Homo sapiens: one gene and its partners. The protein of the gene in region 3 interacts with the protein of the main gene of each other region in a pairwise test. Each region holds a gene or a part of one and is shown on either strand. Other genes may lie near its edges. The genes, in order: PRKCI, CSNK1E, YWHAH, MARK3, MARK2, CDK14 and MARK4.

Region 1 (3,500 bases), on a different chromosome or scaffold from region 3:
AGAGGAGAACTGTAGAGGTGGAGTTTTTCTAAGAATACAGACTTGAGCTGTCATCCAGTATGTCTTTTCAGATGGAGCAAAAACAGGTGGTACCTCCCTTTAAACCAAATATTTCTGGGGAATTTGGTTTGGACAACTTTGATTCTCAGTTTACTAATGAACCTGTCCAGCTCACTCCAGATGACGAGTAAGTAATTCTGTACACTGAAATTTTTTTTTAAGTTCTTTGGAAATCCCATTTTTAGTGACTATGCAATGTTTCATTATCAGATTATACTATAATTTTTTTATTTTCTATTTTATTTCATTTTATTTTATTTTGAGATGGAGTCTCGCTCTGTTGCCCAGGCTGGAGTGCAGTGGTGCAATCTCGGCTCACTGCAACCTCTGCCTCCCAGGTTCAAATGATTCTCCTGCCTCAGATACCCTGAGTAGCTGGTACTACAGGCGCGTGCCGCCACGCCCAGCTAATTTTTGTATTTTTAGTAAGGACAGAGTTTGCCATGTTGGCCAGGCTGATCTTGAACTCCAGACCTCAGGTGATCCACCCACCTTGGCCTCTTAAAGTGCTGGGATTACAGGCGTGAGCCACTGTGCCCGGCCTATACTATAATTTATACAACCATTCAGTTACTGGTATTTGTATCTACTGTACCATTATAAGTTTTAATAGTAACTGTCATTTTCTCCTTTGCTTTATAGTGCATTATCTTATTTTCACAACAACTTTGTAATCTAGTTACTGTCATCTTCGTTTTACAGATGAGGAAACCAAGGCTCAGAGAGGTTAAGCAAAGTTACACAGCTATCAGGTGGCAGAGTCAGGATTCAAACCCAAATCTGACTGACTAAGGCCTGTGCTCTTTCTACCACGCTGCACTGTTTCCCATTTGACAAGGACTGTCTTTGAGTTCCTGAGTATTGCCTTAAGATAGATTCCTAGAAAGAGAATTAGGTCAGAGGGTATTAACATTTTAAAGCTCTTGTATTGCCAAATTGCTTTTTTTAAGAAATTACATTGAGTTATTAAATCCAGCCATCAGTGATCTGGTATATTTTTTGTGCTTATACTTCATCTTTTAAACATGTAGTTTGGAATAATTGGGAGATATTTTGATTATTTACCTGTTGTTACAGATTCATTCTCTCTAATCTCAGGGAGGCCCTTATTGTTTGGCAGTCATTTCACTTCTATCTCATTTCTTACCACATTTCTCCCAGCACCTGCTCCAAACAGTCTCTTCATTTCAGAAGCCTTCAGTTCTACTCCTTTTTCCATCACTGTTAATGGATTAACCTTGTCTTAATTTGATGCAAGGACTGATAACCTCTCTGACGTGACCTTGCCTCCTTTGCAGCTGTCCCCAGACCACCTTGCATCTCAGAATTGCTTTCTAACTCTTTTCATCATTTTCTTATTCCCTACTCTTGGAAGACTCTCCTTTACAAGGGGTGTCCCTGCTATTTTCCTAGACCTGTTTCCTTAGTTTTCTCCAAGATTTCATTTTGTCAGTTATCTTTTTATTAGACCTTCTTTATTTTTTTCTAGCTTGTTTCCCTCTGTGTAAGCATGCTCAGATACTCTGATTTTTCCCCCTAACTCATGGCCCCTCTTTGAACAACCACGTTTTTCCTCATTTTCATTTCATCTTAAAGCCTCAAAAAAAAAAAAGTTAATAGATGTTCATGGTCAAAGAAAAATAAATACACAGCACCTCTAATCAAACTTCTTCAGACTAGTCAACATTGATTGTCTTGAATTTTTTTTTTTTTTTTTTTTACTGTCAACACTTCAACCCCTTACAATCGAACCTGTCCTCCAGCTTTTGAAGGTTGAATCAATTTCTTAATTTCTAAATTGTAAAGCATTTTGGGGTCAGTCCTCCTCTCCCTTGATTAATGTAAAGCATTTGGTACTCATGGCTTTGCCTTGGGTAGCACTGCCTATTCTGGTTCTGTTTCATCTCTGTGACTACTTTCCTCTCATGTGTTTTCCCTGTCCCCTTGAGACCAGGATGCTCCATGGTTCTGTTCATGACAGCCTTCTTTTTGCTATATGCAGTTTGTACCTTGGAGATTTCAGCCAGCCCTGTAGCATAGATACCAGCTAATTAAATGGCTCTCAGTTAAATGGCAAATGGTTATTGAGCAAAAGGTGTTATGGTAAATACTAGACATTCAAAGACAATCAAGACAGTCTGATCTCCCCAAAAGCGTGCTGTCTACTAGAGGAGAAAGATGTGTACCAAGTCATTATTTCTGACAGCATTGTGTATTAGAAGGAACACTGGATTTAATCAAAAGATAGGAGTTTGAATCCCGATGCCACCTCTTACCAACTGGGTAACCTTGGATAGGAATTGCATAACTTCTCTGAGCCTGTTCTCAAATTGCCTACCTCATAAGGTTGCTGTGAAGAATAAATGCATGATGGTTTCTGAAGCACTTATCCCCTGCCGTTAGATCTCCTGAGCTGCATTTCTGTTTAACACGGCCCCCAGTTTGTCAGCCAAGCAGCTCAAATATATGAAGTCTAAAATGAAAGTAATGACCCTTTATGATCTCTTTCTATTGTTCTCAATCAGTTCCTTTTTTTTTAGTTACCTAATTCTGCTCACGGTGTGTCCCTGTTGTTCAGATTCCAGATGTCAGTGATTGTGGACTCCTCCTTTTTCTTAACAGATTACATAATACCTGCAGCTGCCAAGTCTTTGTCTGTGTTTTCATTATTTCATCATTTACATCAGATCTTTCTTTTCTCTTCCCGTTGACACACCCTAGTTCAGGCCTCATTCAAGTCATACCCAGAGTATTGTATCAGCCTCCTAATTGATCTTTACTCCTTCACTTTGCAACCTATTCTGTATGCCTTGTGAAGTACCACTCCAATTCTTGAACCCCTTTAATTAGAAACCTTCAGTAACTCCTTCATTGCCTATCAGGTAACATCTATCCTCTTGGCTAGCATTTAAGGCCTCCCCACATCTGCTCCAGCCTGACTTTCTAGCGATACCTCTCACCATAATACAAACAGTGTTCTGATCAGTCTTAGCTACTCACCATTCCCTAGTAGTATTATTGTCTCTGCTTCTGCCTGTTCATTCCTGTGTATCCCGCCTTCATTTTTACCTATTGAAATTTTCCCATCTTTCAGAGCCACCTCAGATGCAACCAGATCTTTGATGGATCAAGGTGAAACTCCTTAGTGTAAACATCACTGGCCTCTTTGATTTAGCCATTATTTTTCTTCAGCATCATCTAACACACTTCTATTCCTGTGCTCCACCCTAATTACTTGCATTTCCCAAGACCTACCACAGTCTTTCATCATTCCATTCATTAAGTGTTTGCAGAATGAATACTGCCTTCCTTGATTTCTCCAACTAGAAGTCACACCTTTCTTTAGAACCATGGTTAGAACAGGACTTAGCTTATTGTGTATAAAATTTAACAAGTACTGCTTTCTCTTCCAGTAGGAATTACCTCCCTTCCTTGAAGGA
Region 2 (3,500 bases), 6.4 Mb from region 3:
GACGGGGAGGTGCAGGCAGGACCTCTGACCTATGCTGGAGGCCAGCAGAGCCGGGGTTGATCTCAAGGCCGCCATTTACAGGTCAGGTGACCTTGAGCTGGGTCTCTAGCTGGGTCTCTGTTTTCTCATCTCTACAAGGGGGTTGAGAATCGAATGAGACACTGGATTAGAATGTGCAGGGCTGCCTCTGAAGGCATCAGCATTGACTGAGGGGTTGCTGCGGCTGTCCCATCCTCATCCTGTAGGCCAGGGTGGTCCTGGCTTGTTCTGGTGTGTTCGGCAGCCCAGCCCCATTGGGCCTCTTCTGCACGTGCCACCATCTCAACCCGACAGACCTCACTGCCTGAATTTGCTCTAGGACTCAGCCCCCTCCCTTAGGTGGTCTGTGAGCCTTTTGCATACCTGACCCTTGCCCCACTCACATCGGGCCTTCTTGTCGCCCCAACCTGTGGCCCTGGGTAGCCCTTGTGTGTCACCTCTGTCCCTCACAGCGCTGACCTTCTTTCCCCTCAGGAACCCTTTGCCGGGGCTCCTTTGCCCCCTTCCCAGCCTCCCCCAAGAGCTCCTCAAGGGCAGATGGCCCCGGGCCCGGCACACGCCAGATCTCAGAAATGCTTAGTGGGGCGCCTGGGACTGCCTGGCCTTTGAGGGTGACCCTGGTCCCTTGCCTCCCTGCCCCGGGCAGGTGCCAACATCGCCTCTGGTGAGGAAGTCGCCATCAAGCTGGAGTGTGTGAAGACAAAGCACCCCCAGCTGCACATCGAGAGCAAGTTCTACAAGATGATGCAGGGTGGCGGTGAGCGCAGGGTGGGCGGCGGCGGGCGCCGGGTGGGTGGCGGTGGGCAGCCATGAGCACAGGGTGGGCCGGGCGTGGCTGGCTGCCTGCCTCTGACCCCTGACAGAGGCCCTCTGCTTGACCCCCAGTGGGGATCCCGTCCATCAAGTGGTGCGGAGCTGAGGGCGACTACAACGTGATGGTCATGGAGCTGCTGGGGCCTAGCCTCGAGGACCTGTTCAACTTCTGTTCCCGCAAATTCAGCCTCAAGACGGTGCTGCTCTTGGCCGACCAGATGGTGAGTCCCCGTCCCCTCCATCCCCAGCCAGATGCCTGTGGGCCCAGGATACCAGCCCTGCCTCCTGCCCCCAGAGGATGCCAGAGGATGGGCCTGGGCCAGGGGACCTTGTCCACTGGCTATAGAATTGTAGGTGTTTATTTATTTTTTGAGGCGGAGTCTCACTCTGTCGCCCAGGCTGGAGCGCAGTGGTGCGATCTCAGCTCGTTGCAACATCCGCCTCCCAGGTTCACGCGATTCTCCTGCCTCAGCCTCATGAGTAGCTGGGATTACAGGCACCTGCCACCACGCTGGGCTAATTTTTGTATTTTTAGTAGAGACAGAGTTTTACCAAGTGATCCGCCCATCTTAGCCTCTCAAAGTGCTGGGATTACAGGCGTGAGCCACCGTGCCCAGCCAAGTTGTTTATTTAAAATGTGATTTCAGGCCCAACTCCAGACCTGCCGAGTCAGGGCCTGGGACTCTGCCTGGGGTAGTTTTATTTATTTATTTCAAAAATATCATTTAATTGTAAGAAATAGAGATGGGGGTCTCACTGTGTTGACCAGGCTGGTCTCAAACTCCTGGCCTTGAGCAGTCTTCCCATCTTGGCCTCCCAAGATGGGAATTAACACGGGATCACAGGCATGATCCACCACGTCTGGCCTGCCCTGGGTAATGTAAAGCCTGCGGTCGGTCACACAGACCTGGTCCTGTTCCAGACCAGTGACCGTAGGTGAACGCCGAACCTCTCTGAGCCTCAGTGGCCTCATGTGAGAGTCTCTCCTTTGTTGGTTGTTGAGGGGATTAGGTGAGATACCATTCAGCGCCTTGCCAAAACAGGCCCCTCTAACAGGCTGTTGTTAAGTACTAAGCCCTTCATCAGCATAGGGAGGAAAGCTTCTTAAAAATACAAAACTGTAGAATTTTGAACTTGGAATGGAATGTGGAGATCTCGTACAGGGGTTTTAATCTTGGTCTGCAAAAGCCCTGCGATGTAGGCTGAAGGTGTGTGAGCAGAGGGTCGCCAGAGCCCCTCATGGTGTGAAACTCAAGAAAGGTGCAGGAGATGTTGAGCTGTGCTGAACCTGGGGCCAGAGCCAGAGGCCACGGCATGTGGATGGATATTAGTTTGAGTTTTAAAAACTCGACTGAAAAGGTGGCTCAAGTCTGTAATCCCAGCACTTTGGGAGGCCGAGGCAGGCGGATCTCCTGAGATCGGGAGTTTGAGACCAGTCTGACCATCATGGTGAAACGCCATCTCTGCTAAAAATACAAAAAATTAGCCAGGTGTGGTGGCGCGTGCCTATAGTCCCAGCTATTCGGGAGGCTGAGGCAGGAAAATCACTTGAACCCTGAAGGCAGAAGTTGCAGTGAGCCGAGATTTTGCCACTGCACTCCAGCCTGGGCAACAGACCGAGACTCCATCTCAAAAAAAAAAATATCAAAGGAAAGAGGGCCATGTGCCTGTCTGAGTTTGGCATCCTTCGGAAGCCCTGTCTTTTGTGTTCTGCCTCTGTCACCTCTTCCTGGTCTAGGCTTCCCCCATGTTCCCTGCCTGCCCCTCGCCCACATCTGTTGCCTCTCTGGCTCCCTAAGTCCTGTGAGTGTGGGGCCGGGCAGGCAAGCCTTCCATGGGGAACCAGTTGCCTTTCTAGCAGACTCTTCATTTCTGGATCTTCCCATTAGCTTTCCTGCAATACTCTCTTTCTCTGTCTCACAGCCAACTTGGTGAACTCCCCCTTTAGAGTTCATCCTGATGTCACATTTTCCAGGAGGCCTTCTCTGGCCTGCCCCTTAGTTATCCTTCATGGTCGAAGGCAGGCCTTTCTCCCTCTGCCTTTCCACCTCTGTGGCCCCAGCCCCTGCCTGGCCCAGAGTGCTAGGCAAGGGCCCCTCTGTTGAACAAATGGCCCCCCTCCTCCCCAGATCAGCCGCATCGAGTATATCCACTCCAAGAACTTCATCCACCGGGACGTCAAGCCCGACAACTTCCTCATGGGGCTGGGGAAGAAGGGCAACCTGGTCTACATCATCGACTTCGGCCTGGCCAAGAAGTACCGGGACGCCCGCACCCACCAGCACATTCCCTACCGGGAAAACAAGAACCTGACCGGCACGGCCCGCTACGCTTCCATCAACACGCACCTGGGCATTGGTGAGGGAGCCAGGCCTGGAGCAGTGTGCACCCGGGGCCACTGGCTGGGGCCCAGCTCTCTGGAGCCCTCTCACCCCCTACCCTGATGGAGGCCCCCAGGCTCTTTTCTAGTGAGAAAGTCCCCACCCCGTCTGCCCCCAAGCTCGTGCTTATTCCGTGTCCTTGCACAGTCGGGTCTTCCCCTTCGTAAGCCAAGCTGTGTGTGCCGGGCGCCTTCCCTGGCCCTGCTTCCTCCTCCGCCCTGTTGGTGCAGGCTGGAAGATACAGGCTCAGAGGTTTAACATGGGTTG
Region 3 (3,500 bases):
TGTAATCCCAGCTACTTGGGTGGGACATGACAATCGCTCGAACCCAGGAGGTGGAAGTTGCAGTGAGCCAGGACTGTGCCACTGCACTCCAGCTTGGGCGACAGAGCAAGACTCTGTCTCAAAAAAACAAAAAATGAGCTAGAGGGATGAAAGCTTGCTGAGCTCTTTCCCAAGTTAATGCTTAGGAAGTGAGGATCTTGCCTGGCCTGCCCCAAGCTGGAAAGATATCCACCAACAGACCAAGTCCTACAGGCCACTGGGCAAGAACATCACCAGCCAGGGTCAGGCTGAGCCCCTTATCCTCACCAGGATGAGGCTGCAATTCTGTAAGACCACAAATAGGCTAAACTTCAAGCTCAGAGCAGGCAAGTTCGGGTAAGTAACATCCACTCTAAGCTAAATTTTAGTCAAATAAAACAGCTACCCTTGTATAGCCAAGAGACTGTTTTTGCCTTGCTTTTGACATAACTGAACATTTTCATGGGGATTGGCAAGGATTAAATACAACACCATCTGAATGGCATTACTGCATGCTACTGTCCCTAGAGGCATCCGAATTGAAGGCTTCAGAAGCTGTGCCAGGTTCGGATCATTGGAAGTGCTAACACTCACCACCGCAGAAGGGAATGCCACTGCAGCCAGGAGTAGGGGCGGGAGGAGCACCAAAATGCTGGGACAGAAGACAAGCTGCCTCCACTTGGACACTAGGAGGAATTTTACCAGCAACCTAGAGACAGAAATTTTGGGGCCTGCATAAAAATATACTAAAGGGTGCAGGGAGAAAAATACATTAAAGGCAATATGGAGAAACAACTGGTGCCAAGAATATGAAATAATTTCTTAAAATACCCCAAATAAAATGTAACATAGTCCTGCACTTCTTAACTCAGGAGAAACTCAAATTCAATACTTTGTTAAGCAAAAAAAAAAAAAAAAAAAAAAAAAAAAAAAAAAAAAAGGCCTCCAAGCCTTCAGAACAAGCAAAATCCAGATATGTGAGTTTCCCTCTTATGTTTCTCTGTTGTAGCTAAAACCCATAAATGGCAGATTGTTCTTAATCGTATTTGGAAAAAAAAAATGACTTGCACCCAACAGATAAAATTATTTGTTTAGTAAGCCCACTTATGAAGAGTTCTTGGATTTCAGTCACCAGTGCTGACAATGGTTAATATACCAGAATGTATACTAGACATATTATCCCTTTGCCTCATGGGGCATTGTTACATAGTGGTTAAAATGAGAGCTCTAAATTTGAGTTTGAATCTTGAATTCACAACTTACTAGCTGTTTGACCATGAGAAAATCAACCTCTGAAAGTCTCATTTGTAAAGGGGAGTAACAGTACCTATCCTGAATTGTTAAACAAGAATGTACACATGGAAGGTGGCGGGCACCTGTAGTCCCAGCTACTTGGGAGGCTGACACAGGAGAATGGCGTGAACCCAGGAGGCGGAGCTTGCAGTGAACCAAGATCCTGCCACTGCACTCCAGCCTGGGTGACAGAGCATGACTCCCCCCCCCACCAAAAAAAAAAGTACACATGGACTAACAGCTACCGTTTACCAAGTGCCTAAAAAGTTAAATAAGTTCTAACCAAGCGCAGTGGCTCACGCCTGTAATCCCAGTACTTTGGGAGGCCGAGGCAGGTGGATAACCTGAGGTCGGGTGTTCAAGACCAGCCTGACCAACATGGAGAAACCCCATCTCTACTAAAAATACAAAATTAGGCGGGCATGGCATGGTGGTGCATGCCTGTAATCCCAGCTACTTGGGAGGCTGAGGCAGGAGAATTGCTTGAACCCGGGAGGCAGAGGTTGCAGAGAGCCGAGATTGCTCCATTGTACTCCAGCCTGGGCAACAAGAGCGAAACTGTCTCAAAAAAAAAAAAAAAAAAAAAAGTAAAATATGTTATATAAACTTGCTAAATGTAACACACACACACATAAAACGTTAGGGGTACCCTCTCCGAAACCGTATTTCTGGAAAAGTGTGACGCTACAGTCTGTCACTGATATAAAATCCCAGACAAAGACCAACTAAAGAAAATCCCCACCAAAGAAAATACATTTTTGGTTTCTTTAAGGGAGTCAGTTCCGGACTGTGGAAGTTCTTCTGGGGATAATTCAGGGACCCAAACCCACATGGGGACTACAGTTTCTATTTCAGTGCAAGAAAGCCACGTAAGCTGTTTGCCCACCTGAAAGGACCTTTTAAATTCAAACTATTACAAGAATAATCCAGAGCCTTCTTCCTTCCTCAAAGACGATTACATTTTAAATGCCCAGTTAGTGGGAAACATAGCTCCCTAGTTTTTACATATTTCAAACTGTAGTATCAATGTGGCTTTAAGATTTCCTACTGGTTGGGTGTGGTAGCTCACTCCTGTAATCCCAGCACTTTAATAGGCTGAGGCAGGAGGACTGCTTGAGGCCAGGAGTTTGAGACCAACTTGGGTACCATATAGAGATCCTGTCTATACAATTTAATAATTAGCTGGGCACGGTGGCATGCATCTGTAGTCCCAGCTGCTCAGGAGGTTCACTTGAGCCCAGGAGCTCAAGGCTACAGTGAATTATGATCGTGCCACGACTGCACTCCAGCCTGGGTTCCAGAACGAGACCATCTCTTTAAGAAAAAAAAAAAAAATACTAATCACACCTCAAAATCCTCCTACTCTCTGTGACACTGATCTGTCTCACCTGGGGCAGTCAGCTGTGCACTTTTACACAGCACCTGCTCATTTCCCCACTTCCCAGAATCTCACAGTTGTTGCAACAACAGCCTTTTGCCAGTGGTTGGGCCAAATGCCCCTCCTCTCCGACTCCTGTTTCCTTAAACTGTAGTTTTGTTTCCTGCACTTAAGATTTCTAGGGAGCCGCTGTGGCTCAGGCCGGTTGCCCTGGCACTCGGGGAGGTGAGGCTACACGTTCGAGGCCAACCTGGTCAACACTGATTAAAAAAAAAAGATTTCTATATATATATTCTGCAGGTACTTTAAACGTGTTTCTGCCCGTTTTCTGTCAACACTGTAATCAACTGGTGTATCAGTGTTAAAACACAATGCTAGCCCAGTAATTTTTACATTTGATAACTTTACAGTTACCATCTATGTTTTAATATAAAATAGATGACTTAGGGCCATAATACATGATGAAATTATGTCTGTCTATGAATATCCACCAGAAATCTATCTGGTTATTTTCCCTCTTTCCTTAAATCACTTAGTCTTCTGGACTAACATTTAATCCCACTTTATAGGTTTATTTCAGTTATCAAATGGTATTTACAGAGACTACGAATTGTGTAGCCTAGAATTGCCTAGCCTAGAAAGGACTTAGGTTCTAGAATCTTTCACAATATTTCTTCCCACTATTATACTCTATGCAAGCTGGTAGGTATGAGATAGAGCTTGAAGATACTCCTTTATGCTTCACTTCAGAAACATTTCTTGCTTCTTCAAATTATGGAGAGAAGCAGGGAAGAGAAGTTCTCAACAGGTT
Region 4 (3,500 bases), on a different chromosome or scaffold from region 3:
TTTCTCTAGAAAGAATGTTTTCACATTAATTAGGAGGTAACTTCATATCATTACAGAAAGCTTTTCTAAAATGCCTAATCCTGTCATAATTCTAATTCTATTTTGGCTAAATTTCATTTTTGTCTTGATGTTTTCCCTCTAGGCTGAAAATCTATTGTTAGATGCCGATATGAACATTAAAATAGCAGATTTCGGTTTTAGCAATGAATTTACTGTTGGCGGTAAACTCGACACGTTTTGTGGCAGTCCTCCATACGCAGCACCTGAGCTCTTCCAGGGCAAGAAATATGACGGGCCAGAAGTGGATGTGTGGAGTCTGGGGGTCATTTTATACACACTAGTCAGTGGCTCACTTCCCTTTGATGGGCAAAACCTAAAGGTATAAGAAGCTGCACCCATGTACTTCACTAAACTAAAAGAAGTTTCCTAATATTACATGGCTTAATATTTTTAACATTATATCAGTGCGGGGGGTTTCAGGGGGTTTTTTGTTGTGTTTTGTTAACTAAACCTAAAGGTTGACTTACTCGTTTTCTTTCCTCTGTACCTCTCCAAAGGAACTGAGAGAGAGAGTATTAAGAGGGAAATACAGAATTCCCTTCTACATGTCTACAGACTGTGAAAACCTTCTCAAACGTTTCCTGGTGCTAAATCCAATTAAACGCGGCACTCTAGAGGTAATCATGTAGGTGGAAACAAGCAGTAACTTTGGAGAGTCTTTAGAGTGACCTTAGATCTTTGCTTGATTTGTATGCCATACTGGATATATCCTGCGGCTTTTTAAGCAAGAATTGAAACATTAAAAAATATTTTTTGAGTTTATGCTTTGAACGATAGTCAATGAAATGTTGAAAATAAATTTTTGTAAATATTACGGTTATCAGAATATTTCATTTTACTCTGCTAATGAACAGTTTACCTTTTTTAGCAAATCATGAAGGACAGGTGGATCAATGCAGGGCATGAAGAAGATGAACTCAAACCATTTGTTGAACCAGAGCTAGACATCTCAGACCAAAAAAGAATAGGTAATCACTCCATGCCTGCATGTTCATGTGTTTTTGTCTAAGTAACATATTTCTGTTTTGACTCATGTCTGTGCCTAAAATGTGAATAATGGAAAGTTAAGCACAAGTCATATGAACAGTTTATCTGTTCTGTCATATTTAGGAACGTAACTACCTGCAGTTTCCTATAATGGCACCCAGTAACTCTGAAACAAGTGCCCATTTATGTTACAAAATATATGTAATATGTCATCTTTTAGGTCAAATGAAAATTATTTTACCCTACAAAAGAATGATTTCTGGCCGGGCGTGGTGGCTCACGCCTGTAATCCCAGCACTTTGGGAGGCCAAGGCGGGCAGATCACCTGAGGTCGGGAGGTCGAGGCCAGCCTGACCAACATGGAGAAACCCCATCTCTACTAAAACTACAAAATTAGCCAGGCACGGTGGCTCATGCCTGTAATCCCAGCTACTCGGGAGGCTGAGGCAGGAGAATTGCTTGAATCTGGGAGGTGGAGGTTGCGGTGAGCCAAGATCGCGCCATTGCACTCCAGCCTGGGCAACAAGAGTGAAACTCCGTCTCAAAAAAAAAAAAAAAAAAAAGGATGATTTCTTACCCAAACAAAACACATAAACTGTATTATGCCCTTCTTTTAGATATTATGGTGGGAATGGGATATTCACAAGAAGAAATTCAAGAATCTCTTAGTAAGATGAAATACGATGAAATCACAGCTACATATTTGTTATTGGGGAGAAAATCTTCAGAGGTAAGAGTAATCAGAAAGAGCTGAAATACCCTGTATGTAATTATTAGTTTATATAAACTGTTTTCTTAGTTTTTATCTTTTGAATATTTGTAACATTTGATACATCATTTTTTAGATTTACTTGCAAATAGCAAATCTAAATCCTATGACTATTATAAGCTATTTTAACTTAACCCTTAATGATGGATATTGGCCAGGCGTGGTGGCTCATGCCTGTAATCCCAGCACTTTGGGAGGCCAAGGCGGACAGATCACTTGAGACCAGGAGTTCGAGACCAGACTGGCCAACATAGGGAAACTCTGTCTCTGCTAAAACAAACAAACAAACAAAAAATTAGCTGGGCGTGTTGGCGCTTGCCTGTAATCCCTGCTCCTTGGGAGGCTGAGGCAAGAGAACTGCTTGACCCTGAGAGGCAGAGGTTGCGGTGAGCCAGGATCACGCCACTGCACTCCAGCCTGGGTGACAGAGCGAGACTCTGTCTCAAAAAAAAAAAAAAAAAAAAAAAGATGGATGTTGTCATAAACCTGGTCTTTCATAAATTAACCTGTAGTCATTAATAGCTTAGAAATGACGTAAAGCATCAGATGAAGTAAATACAACATTTAAAGTTATTTGAGAAAGCCTGGAAAGAAAATCATAAATACCTTACCTTTAGTGTCTTTCCAGCCGTCAGAAAACTACTTTTGCTTGAGTTTAGGGTTGTCATTTTTGTACGTTGTGATTCCTCCTCTCTCTGAATGAACGGTTTATGAGAGGTCTGTGTTAATGAAAAGTTTAACTTCCTAATAAGCCATTTGGGTTCGTGTTGTGGTTTGCTCTGTTTTTCTCATTTTCTCTTAGCTGGATGCTAGTGATTCCAGTTCTAGCAGCAATCTTTCACTTGCTAAGGTTAGGCCGAGCAGTGATCTCAACAACAGTACTGGCCAGTCTCCTCACCACAAAGTGCAGAGAAGTGTTTCTTCAAGCCAAAAGCAAAGACGCTACAGTGACCATGGTAAGTTTTGGAGTATCCCAGTGCCTTCTCTTAGAGTCCAGGCAAGAGGTCTCCTAGCACTGGGAAGCATTCTCTTGCTCAGAGCCTGGCTTGATGTCCTTTCTTGGCATTGCTTTCTTTCTTTCTTCTTTTTTTTTTTTTTTTTTTTTTTTTTTTGAGACAGAGTCTCACTCTGTTGCCCAGGCTGGAGTGGAGTGGCACAATTTTGGCTCACTGCAACCTCCACCTCCCAGGTTCAAGCGATTCTCCTGCCTCAGCCTCCTGAATAGCTGGGACTACAGGTGTGTACCACCATGCCTGGCTAAGTTTTGTATTTTTAGTAGAGACGGGGTTTCACCACATTTGGCCAGGCTGGTCTTCAGCTCCTGGCCTTAAGTGATCCACCTGCCTTGGCCTCCCAGAGCGCTGGAATTACAGGCATGAGCCACCGTGCCTGGCCAGCATTTTTTCTTAGTGTTCCTGCAGGTGCTGCCATGATTACATATTACTTCAAGGCTCTTATCTTCTTTATACATGCAGTAGATTTTTGCTGGATAAAGCTTAGTTGAGTGGAAACCTTACCATTTGCCCTTCTAGAACCTCTGCTTTAATCTGTAGTTTTCCTTTTTTTTTTTTTTTTTAAATGGAGATGGGGGTCTCGCTATGTTGCCCAAGCTGGTCTCAAACTCCCAAGTTCAAACTATTCTCTCACCACAGCGTTCTAAAGTGCTAGGATTACAGACGTGAGC
Region 5 (3,206 bases), on a different chromosome or scaffold from region 3:
AGGGCAGTTGGGTGTGCTGGCTGTTCTCATTCCTCTTTCCCTTCTTTTAGCAATAAGTCTGGGGTGAGGTGGGGAGGGAGGCTGCAGGGGGGGAGGTGGGCAGAGGGGCCTTACAGCAGCAGAGGCTGGAAGAGAAGCTCTGTCTTCAGGGGCCAGCTGGGAAATGCTAAGGAGCTGAGGGTGCCCACCAAGCCCACCTTCCAGAAACTTGGAGAAATGGGGGTTGGGAACTTATGCAGACATGGATTTATTTTTCAACATTTTTTAAAAATTAAAAAAAATAAAATCTAAGCTTACTGAGTTTTCTTTCCCTTTTGGTGCAAGGGCCCTGGGCTTTGCTTCCTGTCTGTGCCCTGTGGGTAAGTGGGGAGCTGGGCCCACCCAGCACTGGCCCCAGACAGGAATCAAGTCTCTCCTGCAAGGCAGGTGGGCTAGGCCACATCTTGCCCACAGGAGACTGGGTCCCTGCCTGGCTGGGAGAAGAAACAGGAGGAGGCAGCTCAGATTCCAAACATTCTCTTTATTACGTGTTTGATCCAGAGGAGAAACTAAGTGCAGGGTTGGGGAGGAGGGGGCTAGACGGGGAGGGGCCACCTTGCCTGGGTGCCCCGGGCCCCTACCCCCTTTGGGAGCCAAGCCATGCCCTCCCAGCCCCCTCAGAGCACCCGGGCTGTTCCATAGGGCAGGAGGGGGGAAGGGAGGGAGGGGGAGCCCTTGGTCTGAGCCGCAGTAGGAGTGTGGGGCAGGAGGGCTGAGGTTGGCAAGGCCCCTTCCTAGGACGCAAGGGCTCGGCTTAATCGCTGAGCCTGGCCTGGGAGCGGGGGTGATGAAGAGGGGTGGAGTCATCATAAATCAAAAAAAAAAAAAATAAAATAAAATAATAAAAAATAAAACCCATCACAAAAAAATGTACAACTCAGGTGAGGGTAGGGGCAGCCTCTGTGTAGGACTCCCACCCCCAATTTCTCAAGAACAGAAACAGCAGAGAAATAAATTAAGGGATGCAGTGGCCACCACCAGCCAAGCGCCCCAAACCGCCCACGCCCACACTGGCCACTGAGGGTAGCAAGCTGGGAGTCGCTTAGCCTATCTGTCCCCCACCCTGTGGAGGGCAGACGCTCCCGGCCCTGCTGCCTAACTCAGCCTTCTGCCAGGTGGCCCTCGGCAGTGTCTCCTGAGAGGAGGGGGCGACAGTGTCAGGAAGAAAAGGCAAGGCTGAGAGATGAGAGTGGTGAGGGAAGTCACTGCTATGGAGAGAGCTGGTGCCCAGATTAATGCCAATGAAGGGGAAGCCATGGGGAGAGGAAGGGCGAGGGGGCTGTGCTTTCAGACAAAGGCTCCCCCATCACAGAGTGCCCAGTGGCCCTGCTCTGGAGACCAACAGCCCAAGCGGCCCCCTGGGGACCGAGAAGCCAGTCTGCCCTCCAGTCCCCTCCCCTCTCCCAGCCCTGGGGTCAGCCCCTCCTTCTACCCGGGAGGGGTGGGAGAAGATGGCACAGACTTTGAGGGAACACACGTCCCCACAGCAGCTTGTGGAAGGAAATGCCCAGCTCTGGGGAGGAGGGGCAGAGGGTACAGTGTGGAGGGAGGCGGAGCCTTGTGCCGGCCCTCCAGCCTCAGCAGCCCCGGAGCAGCCCCCAGCCCCACCCACTGCAGGGCTGCGCAGCACCCCCGCCCCCTGCCCCACCGCCCAGGCCTCCAGCCCAGGGGCCTGAGGTCAGGGGAAGGCCACCTCTGGTGGTTTGCTTGGAGGGGAAGGAGGGAGGAGAGGGGAGAAGCCCACAGTGGGCCTGGCGGAGGGCCTGACGGGAGCTCCACCACTCTTGCCTGAGAGTGTTCCAGCCCTGAGCCACCCTCCCGGGAAACCCCACAGATCCAGTCTCGACTGTCCCAATGGGGCAGGGAGGAAAGGTGGCCGCTGGGATTTTTTTTTTCTTTTTTCTTTTTGGTAATAAAAAATTTCTTGGTTTAGGCGAAATACTCTGTGCAACCGCAGTACCGAGGGGGAGCCCTGCCCCCCCATCCACCCTCCCCTTCCTTTGCCTCCAGTAGGGGAGAGGAGAAGGGGGAATCTCTGGGCAGGGGTGAATGTGGGGTGCTGGAGAACAATCTCCCACCCCCCACAAACATGTAAGAGAAAACTGAGAAGGGCCAGGGAGGGGAGAAGTGCCAGCAGGGGAGACACACCAATCCATCGCTGCAGTCTCGCCCAGGTGGGGCGGCGCAGCGGCCGGCAGCCCGTCCAGCTGGCCCGCCCCCGCCGCCCCCGCTCCTGGCAGCCTGTTAAAGCTTCAGCTCGTTGGCTATTTTGGAGGCAATGTTTTTGAAGGCCATGGAGGTGCCCGATATCCGCTTAAATCGAACCCCGTTGAGAGAGAGCCGCGGCAGTTTGCACACCTCCATCTCCCACTGCACGAAGTCCTCGTGGCCCGGCGTGCCGTGCATGCACAGCAGCATGTACTTCTCATGCAGCTCGCTCTGGCAGCTGTTCGCGTCCAGCACCTTGCGGATCTCCCGCATCATCTCGTTGGGCTCCATGGAGCTCGTGGTCTTCATACTCCACGTGAAGCGGAGGGAGCGGGGCTTGGCCTCCCGAAATTCTTCCTTTTCTTTGTCGTTGCCGCCACTGCCCACCACGTGAGGTCTGTGGAGAGGGCAGAGGCGGGCGTCACGGGGGGGCTGAGGCACCCCACCCCAGGAGAGCCACCCTGGCAGACAGCCCCTGAGCCCAGAGAGGAGAGCGGGAGGGAGCAGGAGCAGCCAGGCGTGGCCCCTGGCCTGCGGGGGCGGAGGGTGGCAGTCCTCCAACCCCCATCTCTCAGGACAGCGAAGGGGAGGAGAAGCCAGCCTTGGGGTAGGCGGGGTGGGGTCAGGGAAGACACCAGTGCCCTCAACAGCACGAGCACAGACTCTCTCTCCAGAAAGAAGCCTCCGAGCACAGGGAGGTGGGATAGTCCAGGGGTAGGAATCTGTAGCCCCAACCACCCGACCCAGAACTCCGACTTCCAGAATATACCAGACCTGAGGAGAAGGGCCCGTAACTCCTGCAATTGGGTTTGGGAAGGGGAAACTCTCTGAGGAAAGGGAGGCCCCAGAGGGTAGGGACAGGGCAGAACCACGGGAGGAAGAGCCAAGTGGCAGAAGGAAGAGAGGAGCAGGAGGCTGTGGCAAGCCCGGTGGCCCGGGCAGGGCCAGTGCTGGCTCCA
Region 6 (3,500 bases), on a different chromosome or scaffold from region 3:
GCCAACCAACTGACAAGCCACCCAGGCACAGAGCTTCCAATCAACTTCTGAGTACATTACTCATAACATAAACTGACAGCCAACAGTTTCTCTCCAAGAGGCATGACATAGACCCACCAAAAATCTCAACAGGTAAGGCAGAGACCAAAACAAATAAACAGAAACAAGAAACTCAAAGGAAATCCAGAAATAATTCAGAGAATATGTAAAAGGAAAAAAAATTCCCCAAGCTACATTTTGTATCCTCAGAAACATATGAAGTGATATGTTATTCATTGAAATAGAACAGGATACTTTTTAAAAGAGCATTCAAAGAATAAGAAAGAGTTCATGGAAATAAATATTAGTATAATTAAAAATCCAATTGAAGGGTTAAAAATTAAAAGTTAAAAAAACCCAGAAGGTAGGAAAAAAAAGATTTAAAATAATAGGGAAAAGAAAAGGTAACTAGAAGATCAATCCAATAATGCCAACATCCAACTAATAAAAATGTTATCGTAAAAGAGAAGATTACAAAAAATTAAATAAACATATAAGAAAATTTTTGAAACTGAAAGAAATTAACTCAAAAATTGAAAACACCCATTGATACCAAGAAAAAGGATGACACCAGGGATGAAAAGAAAGTCCTAGAAAGTTCCACAAACAAAAAAGCAGATAAAGGATGAACTGGGAAACCAGAATAGTCTAGGGATTTCAATACAATCTAGGCACCTAGAAAACAATAAAACAAGGTATTCAAAAGTCTAAGAAAAAATTATTTTCTAAACTAAAATCACATACTTGGCCAGATTATTAATCAAGTAATCAACGACAGATAAAATCATAGTCATATGACAAACCCCCCATCACCCTTTCTCAAGAAGCTACTGCGAGGATGTACTTTAAAACAATGAAATAAACCAAGAACAAGAAAGACATGTAACCCAGAGAATGGGTATTTAACATTAAAAAAGGAGGAAAAAATTCTCAGAAAAGGACGCCTTATGACTATAGGATTAGAGGTTAACCAATCTATATTAAATTAGGACTATGAAGAACTGCCAGGGCAATCTCAGTGGGGGAGAAAAACTGATAGATTATCTGATTTGTTTTGGAGGCATTTTACAGTTTTGTCATATAGTTGCAGGCCTCAAATTGTGTTTAAAATTATCTTAATTTGAATGAAGGAAAAGTAGACAATGACAACTAAGAAAATGAAGAAGTTGTGCAAGGAAGGAAATTTATTCATAGCATACTTGTGGTTTCCCTGACCAAAATTTACATTATCATACAATTGTAAATAATGTATATTAATTTAAGCCAAAAAGTAGGAAAAAATGTATTTGAGAATAGAAATATAACAGAGAATATTCTCTCTTGGTGTGTTCCTTTCTAACTTGTAAATCACTAGTTATATCTAAAGTCTGTTTCCCTCTAACACTTCTTTCTGGACATTCTCTTCTTTCCTTTGGTCCTACTGAATCTACCCTACACAGATTTCTACTCCAGCATTTTCCATTCAGTACAGGGCTTTGTCCTGGAAAAGAACTTCAACTTGTCACTTTACAGAGTCACATGAGAAAGACTGGTGGAGTACCCCCCCAAAAAAAACTGGATTAACGCAAGTGAACAAATTTTGATATTTATTCTGCAATGAAATTCCTTGTGAATTTGCTAATTTCAAAACTATCCTTACTGCCTACACAGTAAAGTTCAATAACCTCTCCAAGGGTTTGAAATACAAAAGACTTTTAATTATAAATTCCTCTAACTAGAAACAATTAAGGGGGAAAAATGATTTTTCCAAAAATAAGTTGAATCATTTCATTCATTTGCTTGCTTAGTGCTTATAAATAAGGAGTCCATATATAGTTTGCTCTCTCTCTTCCAAAACATTCAACCACCCTGGGAGAGAATGCATAATAAGGCACTGATAAAGTTTCCTGCTGTCTTCCAGCACCGCATGCTATCATAAGAAGGCTATTCCTTCTGTTTACCCAGTGATAAACAAAAAGACTGCACTTACCGAGCTGGGGCTGGAGTGCCGCCTAACTTTAGGTGACTCTTTGCCAGTGGAGGAGGTCTTAAAGTTAATGCAAGCATTGTTCTCAGAATGCACCCTCTTTACTTGATTAGCTGGTTTCTCAAATGGGTCAAAAGTGCTCTGTGTCCTCTGAACTCTGACTTTTTTATCCTCAGGAATTGTGTCCAGGGGTTTGATCACTGAGTCCATTCCCTGGCAGTTCCGTGTAGACATCTTTGTGACACATATCTGAGAAAAGAAGAAATTAAATTCAGAACTCTTCACTGCAACTTTAATATCACTAAACATGCCAATATATAACTCTAGAAAGCATGCCAATTTCAGTTTCAGGAAATACCCAAAAAGCCCACATTCTAAAAGCTGCATCAGCATAAATTACAGTACAAAAAAATCCTCACAATCATTGTGTTTACACTTAGATCTCACACTAGAGCTTACACTAAAAAATCTACCTCTAAAATGAGAAACTTAAGGCCCAGGCTGCTAGTAGTACCCTAACATGATTCTTGAACTCTGTCACACGTTTTACCATCTGACTGGAAGTGGTTTATTTCTGAATCATTAAGAGGTTGGGTAACTAGCCTTAATTTAAAAAACAAAAAATAGGCAAATCAGATGGACATTAACTGATGGGTCATCGTGTAAGCAGCTAACCTAGGCTAGAGAAGGAAAGGGCATTATGTTGTTTAAAAGTTTTATGCATGAATATGTATGCTTAAAATCTGTCCCCATCTTGATTTCATCTCCAAATTGGAATGAATGGAGCTAATGGTTAGAGATACTGAAGAACTGAGGACAATGGTGGGGGTTTCCTTTATTTCAAAGCTAATGGATAAAAAGAAATAACATTGTAAAAGAAAAACACCAAAAAGCATTCATTTCAAAATTTGGTTTACATTATTCCACTAGACCTCCACCTCCTTCCCTTCTTCTTCCTTCTTCACCCATTCTCTTCTCACCCAGCCTTCCCCACCCTCTCATTTTATTTCAGTCTCTGTGATTTTTGCTCCTTGCTTTTTACTTTAGTTCTAAGCCTGTCATTCTCCCGATACTCTGGAGACTTTGTTGTCTTTATTCAATAATTTGATGGCCTCTGGCTTGTCTGTAAAGCTAACTAATTTAATTGTTCTCTCTAAAGAAAATATAACTCTAAATAAAATTGTTTTTAGAATGCTTTTCTTCTTATAAAAAGTTCCCACATCCCTATATGCTATCAAAAGCAGAAAAACCGAAGATATTTATGAAAAGCCCACACTGTTAAGGTAAAAATACGAAGTTTTTGAATACACACTTTGGGTCCGTGGTTGGTTGAGTATGTGCATACAGAACCCACAGATACACAGAGCTAATATGTATAGAATGACTCCATGTGGGGTATAAATGCGGCTATGTATATGGATAGATATAGACAGATACAGATATAAATACAGACACAGATGCATAGATATAGATATTTGTGAGTGTATGAGCATGG
Region 7 (3,500 bases), on a different chromosome or scaffold from region 3:
GCTCCACCTCCTGGGTTCATGCCATTCTCCTGCCTCAGCCTCCCAAGTAGCTGGGACTACAGGCGCATACTGCCACGCCTGGCTAATTTTTTGTATTTTTAGTAGAGATGGGGTTTCACCTTGTTAGCCAGGATGGTCTCAATCTCCTGACCTCGTGATCTGCCCGCCTCGGCCTCCCAAAGTGCTGGAATTACAGGTGTGAGCCACCATGCCTGGCCTTTTTTTTTTTTTTTTAGACCAAGTCTCACTCTATCACTCTGGCTAGAGTGCAGTAGAGCGATCTCGGCTCACTACAACCTCTGCCTCCCAGGTTCAAGTGATTCTCCTGCCTCAGCCTCCAGAGTAGCTGGGATTACAGGCGTGTGCCAATGCCTGGCTAATTTTTGTATTTTTTTAGTAGAGATGGGGTTTTCACCATATTGGCCAGGCTGGTCTCGAACTCCTGACCTCATGATCCACCCACCTCAGCCTCCCAAAGTGCTGGGATTACAGGCCTGAGCCACTGCACCTGGCCACCTGGCCCATAATTTTTATATGCACTGGGAATCCAAAAGATTCATGTGCATTGCTTTTTTGCAGTATTTGCTTTATTGCGGTGGTCTGGAACCAAACTTGCGATATCTCTGAGGTATGTGTGTAATTAGAAAAGGAGGTTGGGGCTGGATGCGGTGGCTCACATCTGTAATCCGTACAGCCGAGGCAGGTGGATCACCTGAGTCAGGGGTTTGAGACCAGCTTAGTCAACATGGTGAAACCCCGTCTCTACTAAAAATACAGAAATTAGCCAGGCATGATGGTGCACGCCTGTAATCCCAGCTGCTCGGGAGGCTGAGGCAGGAAAATGGCTTGAACCCGGGAGGCAGAGGTTGCAGTGAGCTGAGATCGTGCCACTGCACTCCAGCCTGGGTGACAGAGGAAGACTCCATCCGAAGGAAAAAAAAAAAGACAAGGAGGTTGGGGGTAGTCAGACTGCAGTGAGGGTTGAAGAAGGGGTGTGATGCCTGGGGCCCTGAATGTTGCAGATTTGGAGGACATGGGGGCTTTTGTTCCTGGAGGCGTCTTTTTGTAGAGAAAGATGAAGGATGCTTGGCTCTCTGGGGCCTGAGTTTGAAAAGGGCCACGGAGGGGCCGGTAGCCAGGCCTCAAGTTAAGTGCACTAGCCCACGGGTTCCACGGAAGGTGGGATTGGATAGCTCATGCTCCATCTCCCCCGCCCAGCATGGCACCTTGGGCAGTGGCCGCTCCTCGGACAAAGGCCCGTCCTGGTCCAGCCGCTCACTGGGTGCCCGTTGCCGGAACTCCATCGCCTCCTGTCCCGAGGAGCAGCCCCACGTGGGCAACTACCGCCTGCTGAGGACCATTGGGAAGGGCAACTTTGCCAAAGTCAAGCTGGCTCGGCACATCCTCACTGGTCGGGAGGTGAGTATGGGCACAGGGTGGGGCTCGGGGCAGGTCCCTGTGGGACCAGGTCTTCGGTGTATGTTGATAGAGGTCAGGATTGGCCCTGGGTTTGCTTTGTGGCCTCAGGTAAGTTCCCGACTCTCTATGGGACAGGTCACAATATCTCTGATGTTCCCAGAACCACCCCCATGGGAAAAGAGAACTAATTTCATGTATCCCTGAAATTGCCGGGAAATCTCAGATCACAGGCAGTCCAATGTGTGCGTTGCTAAGGATGCATGTGGCTTTTGTAGATAAACCTGAGCTGTGGCCGGATGCATTGGCTCACACGTGTAATCCCAGCACTTTGAAAGGCCAAGGCAGGAGGATTCCTTGAGCTCAGGAGTTTGAGACCAGCCTGGGCAACATAGCAACACTTTGTCTCCACTAAAAAATAAGTAAAATTTTTTAAAAATTAGCTGGGTGCGGTGGTGTGTGCCTGTGGTCCCAGCTACTTGGGAGGCTGAGGCGGGAGGATCGCTTGAGCTCAGGAGTTTGAGGCTGCGGTGAGGTGTGACCTCACCACTGCACTCCAGCCTGGGTAACAGAGTGAGACCCTATCTCAAAAAATAAAAATAAAATAAAATAAAAGAGGGCTGGGCATGGTGGCTTACGCCTGTAATCCCAGTACTTTGGGAAGCTGAGGCAGGTGGATTGCTTGAGGTCAGGAGTTCGAGACCAGCCTGACCAACATGATGAAACCCTGTCTCTATTAAAAATACAAAAATTAGCTGGGCGTGGTGGCACATGCCTATAATCTCAGCTGCTCAGTAGGCTGAGCCAGGAGAATCGCTTGAACCCAGGAGGCGGAGGTTTCAGTGAGCCGAGATCATGCCACTGCACTCCAGCCTGGGTGACAGAGTGAGACTCTGTCTCAAAAAAATAAAAAAATTAAAAGGCCGTGCGCGGTGGCTCACTCCTATAGTCCCAGCACTTTGGGAGGCCAAGGCAAGTGGATCACCTGAGGTCAGGAGTTCAAGACCAGCCTGGCCAACATGGTAAAACCCCGTCTCTACTAAAAATATAAAGATTAGCTTGGTGTGATAGCAGGCACCTGTAATTTCAGCTACTTGGGAGGCTGAGGCAGGAGAATTGCTTGAGCCCAGGAGGCAGAGGTTGCAATGAGCCAAGATGGTGCCACTGTATTCCGCCTGGGCAACAAGACCGAGACTTTGTCTCAAAAAAAAAAAAAAAAAATTGGCCGAGTGCAGTGGCTCATACCAACAAACACAGCGCTTTGGGAGGCCGAGGCAGGTGGATCACCTGAGGTCAGGAGTTCGAGACCAGCCTGGCCAACATGGCAAAACCCCATCTTTACTGAAAAAAAAATACAAAAATTAGCTGGGTGTGGTGGTGCGTGCCTGTAAGCCCAGCTACCTGGAAGGCTGAGGCAGGAGAATCACTGGAACCCAGGAGGCGAAGGCCGCAGTGAGCCGAGATTGTGCCACTGCACTCCAGCCTGGGTGACAGAGCAAGACCATCTCAAAAAATAAATAAATAAATAAATAAATAGTAAATAAATTAAAAATAAAAAATAAATAAACCTGAGCTGCCTCTCTGTTTTAAGGGTGGACTTTGGTTCCTTGAAATCTTCCTGTGATCTGGAGAACACAGCAGGTTTATTTATGTTGTATTCTCAGTTACACACAGCCTCACTCTCCCCACCACCTCTTCCAGAGCAGGCATCTGTGCTGAGTATGGTGACATTATTGCAAAAAGGGCCCACACAGGCTTTGCAGCCTAGATATGAGGTCTCTAACTCACTTAGAGGAAAAGGAATGGTGGGTGATTTCATGATTTCCCCACCCCTCCTTCAACTTCAGAGAAATGATTGGAATGAATTATCCTGCCTTGGATGGACTCTCCCCTGCCCTCACGCTGTCTACACCATACACGCAAAAGACACCGGGCCCCGATGGTCTTACAGGCAAATCCTACCAGATGTTCACATTTTATGCCAGTTCTTCCAGAGACTAAAGAAAGAACTGCCACTGCCTGACTGATTTTTACGCGCTAGTTTGTCCTTAAGAGCAAAACCAGACAAGAAACAAAATTACAGG

The links.
Region 1: the proteins of YWHAH (region 3) and PRKCI interact in binary tests that used the Homo sapiens proteins (3 or more experiments, as listed by UniProt).
Region 2: the proteins of YWHAH (region 3) and CSNK1E interact in binary tests that used the Homo sapiens proteins (3 or more experiments, as listed by UniProt).
Region 4: the proteins of YWHAH (region 3) and MARK3 interact in binary tests that used the Homo sapiens proteins (3 or more experiments, as listed by UniProt).
Region 5: the proteins of YWHAH (region 3) and MARK2 interact in binary tests that used the Homo sapiens proteins (3 or more experiments, as listed by UniProt).
Region 6: the proteins of YWHAH (region 3) and CDK14 interact in binary tests that used the Homo sapiens proteins (3 or more experiments, as listed by UniProt).
Region 7: the proteins of YWHAH (region 3) and MARK4 interact in binary tests that used the Homo sapiens proteins (3 or more experiments, as listed by UniProt).

Annotation. Positions count from the first base shown.
Region 1 is NC_000003.12:170,298,924-170,302,423, forward strand, and holds part of PRKCI (protein kinase C iota type), read left to right. Parts: intron 1-71; coding exon 72-187; intron 188-3,500.
Region 2 is NC_000022.11:38,300,434-38,303,933, reverse strand, and holds part of CSNK1E (casein kinase I), read left to right. Parts: intron 1-685; coding exon 686-796; intron 797-924; coding exon 925-1,073; intron 1,074-2,981; coding exon 2,982-3,210; intron 3,211-3,500. Other genes in the region: TPTEP2-CSNK1E (casein kinase I), read left to right, coding at 686-796, 925-1,073, 2,982-3,210.
Region 3 is NC_000022.11:31,947,535-31,951,034, reverse strand, and holds part of YWHAH (14-3-3 protein eta), read right to left. Parts: exon of another isoform or gene 1,883-3,500; intron 1-1,882. UniProt on the Homo sapiens protein: Adapter protein implicated in the regulation of a large spectrum of both general and specialized signaling pathways. Binds to a large number of partners, usually by recognition of a phosphoserine or phosphothreonine motif.
Region 4 is NC_000014.9:103,465,415-103,468,914, forward strand, and holds part of MARK3 (MAP/microtubule affinity-regulating kinase 3), read left to right. Parts: intron 1-142; coding exon 143-379; intron 380-557; coding exon 558-677; intron 678-928; coding exon 929-1,028; intron 1,029-1,664; coding exon 1,665-1,777; intron 1,778-2,618; coding exon 2,619-2,772; intron 2,773-3,500. UniProt on the Homo sapiens protein: Serine/threonine-protein kinase. Involved in the specific phosphorylation of microtubule-associated proteins for MAP2 and MAP4. Phosphorylates the microtubule-associated protein MAPT/TAU. Phosphorylates CDC25C on 'Ser-216'.
Region 5 is NC_000011.10:63,908,315-63,911,520, reverse strand, and holds the end of MARK2 (serine/threonine-protein kinase MARK2), read right to left. Parts: intron 2,645-3,206; coding exon 2,284-2,644; 3' UTR 501-2,283; downstream 1-500. UniProt on the Homo sapiens protein: Serine/threonine-protein kinase. Involved in cell polarity and microtubule dynamics regulation. Phosphorylates CRTC2/TORC2, DCX, HDAC7, KIF13B, MAP2, MAP4 and RAB11FIP2. Phosphorylates the microtubule-associated protein MAPT/TAU.
Region 6 is NC_000007.14:90,725,321-90,728,820, reverse strand, and holds part of CDK14 (cyclin-dependent kinase 14), read right to left. Parts: intron 2,255-3,500; coding exon 2,009-2,254; intron 1-2,008. UniProt on the Homo sapiens protein: Serine/threonine-protein kinase involved in the control of the eukaryotic cell cycle, whose activity is controlled by an associated cyclin.
Region 7 is NC_000019.10:45,257,771-45,261,270, forward strand, and holds part of MARK4 (MAP/microtubule affinity-regulating kinase 4), read left to right. Parts: intron 1-1,218; coding exon 1,219-1,419; intron 1,420-3,500. UniProt on the Homo sapiens protein: Serine/threonine-protein kinase. Phosphorylates the microtubule-associated protein MAPT/TAU. Also phosphorylates the microtubule-associated proteins MAP2 and MAP4.